Homo sapiens: one gene and its partner. The protein of the gene in region 2 interacts with the protein of the main gene of each other region in a biochemical or structural test. Each region holds a gene or a part of one and is shown on either strand. Other genes may lie near its edges. The genes, in order: UNC5B and TREM2.

Region 1 (3,807 bases), on a different chromosome or scaffold from region 2:
CACTTGTAGCCAGCTTGTCAACCGCCTTTGAGTTTTACAATTTACGGTGTTGGTTCTGCAAGTTTTCAATATGGACACAGTAAGATTAATACTTTCCTTGGAGGACTGTTTGGTCTTGGCATCAGGCTTAGAAGGGGAGCCACGTGTGGGCAGGCAGCAAGGGATGGGAGGAAGAAAAAGGAGCAGCGGCTGGGGCTCTACTCACAGGGTACTTTCTGCCTTGTTGATGAGTAGATACATCTCGTAGAACTTGCCCTGGGGAATGGCTCCATTGGGCACCAGCAAGCTGACCCCTAGGGGGAGAGGGAAGTCAGCAGGGAGTCCAGGAGCTTAGGAGAACAAGTGTTTGGGAAGTTGGCCCCAGCTTGGGGCTGGGAGAGAAAGATATCTCCTGAGCTCCAGGTAGTCCCCAGCCAGGGGTGGGAGACAGGGTCTGGGGACTGGATGCAAGCAGAGGCCAGGCCACTGACCAGTGCTGGCTTGTCTAGGAAGACAGGGGTCTCTGACATTGCTATGGTGTCTGGAGGTCCAAGTGCCAGCTCTACTCCTAGCTTAGTATATGATGCTGGGAAGCTGTTAATTGCTGGCTTTGCAAACTAAAACAGGCGCCCCTGTCCCTCTGCTGCTAGTTCCAGGACAGTGCTTTGTAGGTCTGCTGAACTACGTTGGAATATTCTCTCTCACACAACAGAGACACTGAAGCTTAGAAGATGGCTGGCCCAAGGTTCCTCTGCCCTAGTGAGGGCATAGGCAGGCTTGAAGCCTAGCTTTTCTAGTCAGACCTCTCTATTTTATACTCACTTCCTGCCTTCAGGCCTCCCTTTCCCCATCTGTGAGATGGGATTAGGGCAGCCCTATCTTCTGCTGGATGGGTGTTGGGGCAGTCCACAGAGGAGGTGCTAAGGCCAGGCTGACGCACAAGCAGGGCAGGGGCTCACCTGTGCCGGGGATGCTGAGCCTCCCACCCAGGCAGCCAAAGGTGCCGCTGACGCTGCTCCCTGGGTCTCGGGGCAGGCCCAAGAGCTGCTGGGAACCGAGGCTGGCGCTGCGCAGGTGCAGGAAGTGGGTGTCCCGGGCGAAATCGCTAGGGTATGTGCCAGGCGGCAAGACCCCCAGCAGGTCAGCCCCATCTGCCAGGCCTGGCCCAGAGCCCGTGGTGCTGGAGCTGTAGACCTTGACCTTAAGGCTGGGTAAGGGGTCCAGCAGAGGAGAGTTGGTCATGGGGATTTTGTCGGTGGAGTCCTGCAGGGCATACACGGGTCCGCGGTAGATGCCGGCGCTGGCTGTCAGGTCAGGAGGCACAGAGGGGTGTAGGAGCTGCGGGTTGCCTGCAGGAGTAGGGGCTATAGTCAGACCCAGCTGTGCCTCAGCTCACTGGCCCAGCTCCCACTGCAAAATCCCACCCAAATGTCCAGCTGTGAAAGGCCCAATTGCTGCCAGCTGCAGGAAGCTTTGGGAATCCCGCAGCCTGGGTCACTCCCTTCCTTCTCGGTAGTTCTCTAATCCATACCCATCCACATAGTTATCTCTAGAGCAAACTCTGGAAAAACCCTGGGAGGGAGTCAGGAGCCTGGCTCTGGTCTGGGTACCACCAGAGCCCTCTGGGTATCCTGCCTCTGCCAACCACCCCAGACATCCTCGGGTTCTTACTGGGCCTTGCCGTCTTAAAGTTGACGGGGTGGAAACCACCAGTCAGGGCAGCAGATGAGTCAGTGATGTCTGTGTCGAAGTCACGGCAGTTGCGGCGGTACACCACCACCCCCACCGCCATGAGGATTGCCACGACCACGAAGATGGCCACCACGAGCCCCGCATACAGCGCCGCATCCCCTGAGGCCTCCAGCACTGCGGGGACAGGAGGACCACATAAGGGGCAGCAGAGACCAGGCCCTGGGGCAATCAGGGAGGCCCTGGGTCCCTGGAAAGGGCAGGGCCCAGGGCCAACCGGCCCGGTGCTGAGTTCCAGTCTGAGCCCTGCCTACACAGGCTGGCAACCTCGGGCTAGCCTTGAACCTCTCTATCGGTAAAATGGGCTCGAAGTCCCTGCCTTACTGCCCTCCTAGTTGTGGCATGAGAAACAAAAGAACAAACATGTTCATGCCATGTGTTAATTCATTGCTTGCTGCTGATGAGACAGGGTCTGTGGCTCAGAGTCACTGGGGCTACATAATTTGCCCTGTGAGTGCTGGGGCTGAAACCTCTGAGTCTGTAGCAATTTCCAGAGGACCAAAGGTCCTGGCTCTGTTATCTTTGTATGTAGATAAGGTCTTCTGGCTCTGTTATCTTTGTAAGTAGCTGTTCTGAACTCTTCTTCCATTCCATGCTCTGAGGGTGGGAAGTGGAGGGACGGGGAGCTGAAGAAGTGGAATGAGATGCACAACAATGCGGTGGAGAAGAGGTGAGCATGTGGGAAGAAGGATGGGCCCAGGGAGGCAACCCACGGCTACACTTTCCTCCCCCAGGCAAACATGGCCAGGCGGGAAGCCTCAAGGTCAAAGTGGCAGGGTCTGAAGTAGGGTTGTCTGGTGGAGCTTTCTACAGTGGTAGAAAATCCTATGGCTGCACTGTCCCGTATGCAGCCACTAGTCACATATGGCTCCTGAACAACTCAAATGTAGCCAGTACCGCTGAGGAACTGAATTTAAAAATTTATTTAATTTTAATTAAGCTAAGTATAAGTTTGAACGGCTTTCACACTGGGCAGTTCAGGGAGAGCAAAAATGGCGGCCAAGATGGCTGCTCTTCCCCTTGCTTCCTTTGGGAGCTCCAGGAAGCACCTGTCCACGCACTTCCTCCCTGGGGGGCCCTCAGAGAAGTAGCCCTGCTTCCTCTGCCTGGAGTCCTCCACACCCTGCACTTGGCGTCAGCCTAAGGCTTTCAGCAAGGCAGGGCATGGCTCCCAGCCCCGGATGTCTGCCCACTTCCGACTTCTGTCCCCCTGTATCTCTCCTCAGCAGCCCTCACTCTTGGGCTCCCCAGAGGACCCCTCAGGGCTGGGCTCCTGGTTCAGCAGAGAAATGGTTCCCCCAGCTTGGCTCTGCCTCCTAATGCCTTCACTGACACTGGGGCCACTTGCCTGGTGACTTACACTTGAATCATCCCCAGCCCGACCCCCAGTGAGCTCGGCCGAGGGCCTCACTGATTTTATGATTCCAGAACTAACTGGAAATTGTGGTTTAATTACCATGGGCCAACCTGCTCAAGTGGCTTTGCTGCTCTGATATGATTGCAGTGGTGGCGCAGCCTCTGGGGCTGGAGGGTGAGCCCTCCAGAGCTGACGCAGGGCAGCGGGCAACAGAGACAATTTGGGAGGCTTGGCCCAGCTGCTGGGGCAGAGAGGTACAGCAAGGGGCATGAGGGGGGACTGGAGTGGTGATGTCCCGGCCTTGGCCCAGAGAGGAGGGCCAAGGGCATATGGTTAAGAACAACAGCTTTGGCTATAAAAATATTTGGGTTCAAATCTTGGCTCTACTATTTCTTGCCTGTGTCTCTGGCCAAGTCCCTTCCTCTCTCTGTGACTCAGTTTCCCCTCTTATGAGAGGAGGCTCAGTAGGGTGCCCTAAGGCCTTTCTTTTCTGTCAGCCAAGGGTTTGCCTGTCTGCCGGTGATGGAGATGCAGACACATGCAGTGTCAGGTGTAGATGATCCCGTGGGGGGTGGGTAGGCACCTTCAGCTCTCCCTGCCCTGCACCCTGATCCCGGGAAAAGCCAGCCAAAGAGAACCAGGGATCCCCCAGAGGAAAGAGGACAGCCATGAAATGGGACTTACGGTGGCTGTTGGGGTCGCTTAGAGTTTTCTTATCTGTC
Region 2 (4,266 bases):
TATGGGCTACTTTTATTTTTCTGTCTCCCTCTTGGGAGGTGGCTAAGGGAGTTCACTGCCACCGGCCATCCTTAGGAAAGTGGTGGAGGTGGGGTTTGTGTCTATGACTGGCAGTCTCCCCTGGCCTCCCCAAGTCAGGCAAATACTACTCCTGACCTCATTTCCATGGTAAAGAGCCATACTGGGAGAAGGGGTTGGAAAGGAGGAGAGTCAGAAAAGGCCTTTGTAGCCCCAGATTTGTTCTCCTTTGGGGACACAGTTGTGTTCTGCAGACTCAAGCAGAAGGCCTTCCTGGAGGGTGGTCCCTGCGCAGAGCTCGGGGGTGGAAAGGAGACACCCTGGCCCACCTACTCACACCTGGAATGACGATCCCAAGACAGTTCAGTAGCAGGAGGCTTGGAGCACATGTCACACCCTGCCCCCAACGCCCCCCGCCAAATAAAAACTCACAGGAACCCTATGGGGTCAGCAGGACAGACACCACCCTCTCCATTTACAGATGAGAGAATGGAGGCCCAGAGAAGTGAAGCACATTGCCCAGCACAAGCAGTGTTCCTTTCTAGGGGTGATTTTCTGCACCAGGTTGGTGCTTCACTTACGTTGATAGGGCCATTGGTTGGTTGGTGAGGGAATAAATTAATCTCCTCCTCCTTAAGGACCTCCTATCATGTTCACATGCTAACTGGATGGAGATGGATAAAGCTGTTTGGGCAAGGAGGGCCAAGGCCAGGCTAGTTCACAGAGTGCCTTAATGCAAAGTAGAGAAAGGTGCCCTTCTTGCAGGTGATGCAGCTCTGCACCAGGGAACACAGTCTGGCAAAAGGAGTCCGGGCTGGATTTTGGCCCCCTTGTATAGTGAGCAACCTGCACAACTATCCTTGGTAGCCCTGAGTAGGGAGATGAGACCATACGATGGGTTTTCCCAGGATCCCTGAGAGCCCAGTGGGTGGTTCTGCACACAGACGCCCAAAACATGAGGCCTGGAACAGGGGCAGGCCAGAGAGGCAGCCACTGCCCACTCACCTGCCAGCACCTCCACCAGGACCTTCCTGAGGGTGTCAGCCTCACTGCCATGGAGGCTCTGGCACTGGTAGAGACCCGCATCATGGGGTTGTAGATTCCGCAGCGTAATGGTGAGAGTGCCACCCAGGGTATCGTCTGTGATGGCTGTGCTCCCATTCCACCTCCTCAGGAAGGACAGCAGCCACAAGTTGTGCGTGCTGACCACACGCTGGCATGGGCCCTTCTCTCCCAGCTGGCGGCACCAGGCCTTGCGCCTCCCCCAGTGCTTCATGGAGTCATAGGGGCAAGACACCTGCAGGGACTGGCCCGCCACGCCCTGGAACACTGTGGTGTTGTGGGCTCCGGACAGCTCTGGGGAGGAGACATTCATTCACTCCTTTGTTTACCAAATACGCTTTGAACACTTGCTCTGTGCAGTGACCTAAACAGACAAAAATCCTGCCCTGAAGGAGCTTAGGTTCTTATACAAGTTGGGAGCGGATGGCACAGCATGTGTTTGTGGGAAATTGGGAACCAGGAAACCTGGGACCTGGGTTTGGTTTTCTCACTGTTGCTCTTGCTGGGCCTCCTTGGAGAAGTAACTGACCTTCTCTGGGTCTATTCTGGAGGCACTTGGTCTTAAAACCCCCTCCAGTTCTGTTCTGCACATCTCTTTGCCATCATTTGGGACTGGGACCTCTCCTCTCGGCCTGGGGCTGGCTCTCCCTGCCCCGCCACTCTTGCTTGCTCTGCAGCCGCCCACATTGGTACCGACTTTCCTGACCTTTAACTTCCAGCTTCCCTATTTCTGTGGCTTTGTTCCCCTTTCAGGAAGGACCCGTCTCGGAGATATTTTGGGGGAGACATGAGGCTGCTATTTTGGGAACCCTCCTTAGGGCGGGGGAGATGGGCTTAGAGCACCAGCCTGTTGCTGGGGCAGCCCCCAGAGCCCCCTGCTTTGACTTCTCTCTTGGTCCTCCCTTGCCTGCCATCTTCAACCATTACTGTGACAGAGGCTTGAAAGATAGGATTGGGAAGTTGGTGGCTTGCCTTTTGGAACTAGAGAGACCAGATGGGCCGTGGCCCTCTCCCATCTGACCACCTCCCATCCATGCCTCAGAACCCCGCCTTCCCCCTGACCACCATCTAAGAAGCTGCAGGAACAAGACTCCATTTGGCACCGTCTCTCCTCTTGCCCAGGTTTGTCCAGTGCTCTGGGGGAGCAAAAGGTGCGCTTTCCTCAGCGGGAAGAAGCAATTGTGTACAAAAATTTGGTGTGTCAATTCCCCTCAACTCAGCAACGGAAATCTCTACGCTCCTCACCTCCCATCAAGAGCTGAGGACAAGGGGACCTTCAGAGCAGGGGAGAGAGTGCCCCAAAGATGCAGATGAACATCCTCAGGTTCTTTCCTCCTTTATAACTGTAGGGGCTCATAATTAGTGGCTTATAATTTCAGAGGCTATTACCAGTGCCAGTGCCCCCCAAAGCTTCCCCCAACTGCCAGCTAGTGCCTGGGATGCCACTGTTAGCACTCCTTCCCTTCCAATGCAACCAGAGTCCACCAGCCCCTTACATGTCCACATGCAGAAAGAGTCTGAGGGTAGGTTTTGATACTGGGGAGGGAAGGAGGGTGTGAAGAATATGGGCAGGGTGGGGAGGAGAGGAGTGCAGAACAGGGCACTCAGGCATGCGAGGACTGCCACCGCCTTCATAATTCACCCCAGGGCCCACCACCCGCGCCCCAACCACATGCTCAAAGTGAGGGAGAGAAGGCATCACAGGGCACGGAGGGGATCCTACCTGTGACAAAGAGTAAGATGAGCAGCCGGAGAGGCTCCATGCCACCCTTCCCCAGCCAAGGGCAGAAGCAGAGTGCCTTGTGCAAGATCTCGTCTTTCCCTTGAACTGCAGAAAAGAGAGGATCAGGCATGTCAGGCGCTGCCCACAGGAACTGGGCTCCTGGGGATTAAGCAATAGTCAGGACTGGGGTCTGGAGGCGGTGCAGGGTGGGGACAGAGGGGAGGAGGAGTCGGCCACTGCAGCCCTGGCAGAAGGAGGCTGAGTCTCCCAGACCTCTGAGAAGCCAGCCCACCCTCCTGCTGGTGCCAGCCAGGGTGGCCCCCAGATGGTTGGGGCTGGTAAGGCCCTGCACTGCTCAGTTTCCTTGCAGAGCCTAGCCCAGGGATCACTATCCTCACAGCTGTATTCAGACCCTCCACCAGCTGCAATGCCCGCCATCTTCTGGTTTCAGCCTTGCAAGAGTTGGAGAACAGCTGTGCCTTTAGAGGCCAGGACCCTCATCCAGCACCTCTTAGTTCATCCCCCCAGGGCTGTCATTCCTGTAGTGTGGCAGCAGTTAAGTACACAGCTCTGGAGCCAGACTTCCTGACTTTCTGGGTGTGTAACCACACATCCAAAACCTACCTGTGTCTGTTCCCTGATCTATACAGTGGGAATAATGATAGTGCAAAGGGTTATCAGGAGCACCATATGGGTTCCTACAGGTAAAGTGCTTTCCAGTAGGGCCTGACACACAGCATTCAACAAATACTAACTATTACCATTATCCTAGTTAGAAGGGAAAAGGGAAATGGGCTGTCCATAAGACAGAAAATTTTCTCTCCCACCTGGAATTTTCTGCCCAAGTTTAGCCTTCTTGGAACTGTTGGGTGTCTCCTGTGCACACATGCTCACACTGGTGTTTATTTTGTGCACACACATGCTTGAACTCCTGATCATCCTATCCTACAGGACAGGACAGGATATTTCTCAGAGTTCTGGGGGTAGGGGTGTGTTTTTCTACACGTACAGGTTCCCATGGTGATCCAAGCACAGGGACCCACGTGTGCAAAGGCACAAAAGTGTGAAATGGCCCAGTGAGTCGGGGATTGGATGGAGGAGGCTTGAGTCAATTCTAGGAGTGGGAAATGGAGTTGTGCTGGGAGTGGCAGAAGAGGCTGGAGAAGCCTGCAGGAGCCTGTAGATTATCAGGGTCTACTTTAGTTTCCTGCAAACACTCACTTATTTGTTCTTTTATTCATTTATTTACTCATATTTACTGTGCATCTAACTTACGGACAGGGAATGTGCTTGGAGATGGGGAATTCATAGTGAGGAGAAGACAGGCCTCCACTCAAAGGGCCAACTGCCCGGCCTTGCCCCAAGGGCCTGGGGGCTGAAGTCTGAGGCTGCCTGAAGATCACTCTGTAGGTACTCTTCTAGGGTCTTTTTCTAGAAGTCAGGTTTATTGGCCCATAATTTAC

The links.
Region 1: the proteins of TREM2 (region 2) and UNC5B form a complex in vitro, tested with the Homo sapiens proteins (one large-scale study listed by BioGRID).

The regions. Positions count from the first base shown.
Region 1 is NC_000010.11:71,288,953-71,292,759, reverse strand, and holds part of UNC5B (netrin receptor UNC5B isoform 1 precursor), read right to left. Parts: intron 3,803-3,807; coding exon 3,770-3,802; intron 1,846-3,769; coding exon 1,651-1,845; intron 1,329-1,650; coding exon 939-1,328; intron 294-938; coding exon 206-293; intron 1-205. UniProt on the Homo sapiens protein: Receptor for netrin required for axon guidance. Mediates axon repulsion of neuronal growth cones in the developing nervous system upon ligand binding.
Region 2 is NC_000006.12:41,160,240-41,164,505, forward strand, and holds the start of TREM2 (triggering receptor expressed on myeloid cells 2 isoform 1 precursor), read right to left. Parts: upstream 2,878-4,266; 5' UTR 2,844-2,877; coding exon 2,804-2,843; intron 1,375-2,803; coding exon 1,024-1,374; intron 1-1,023.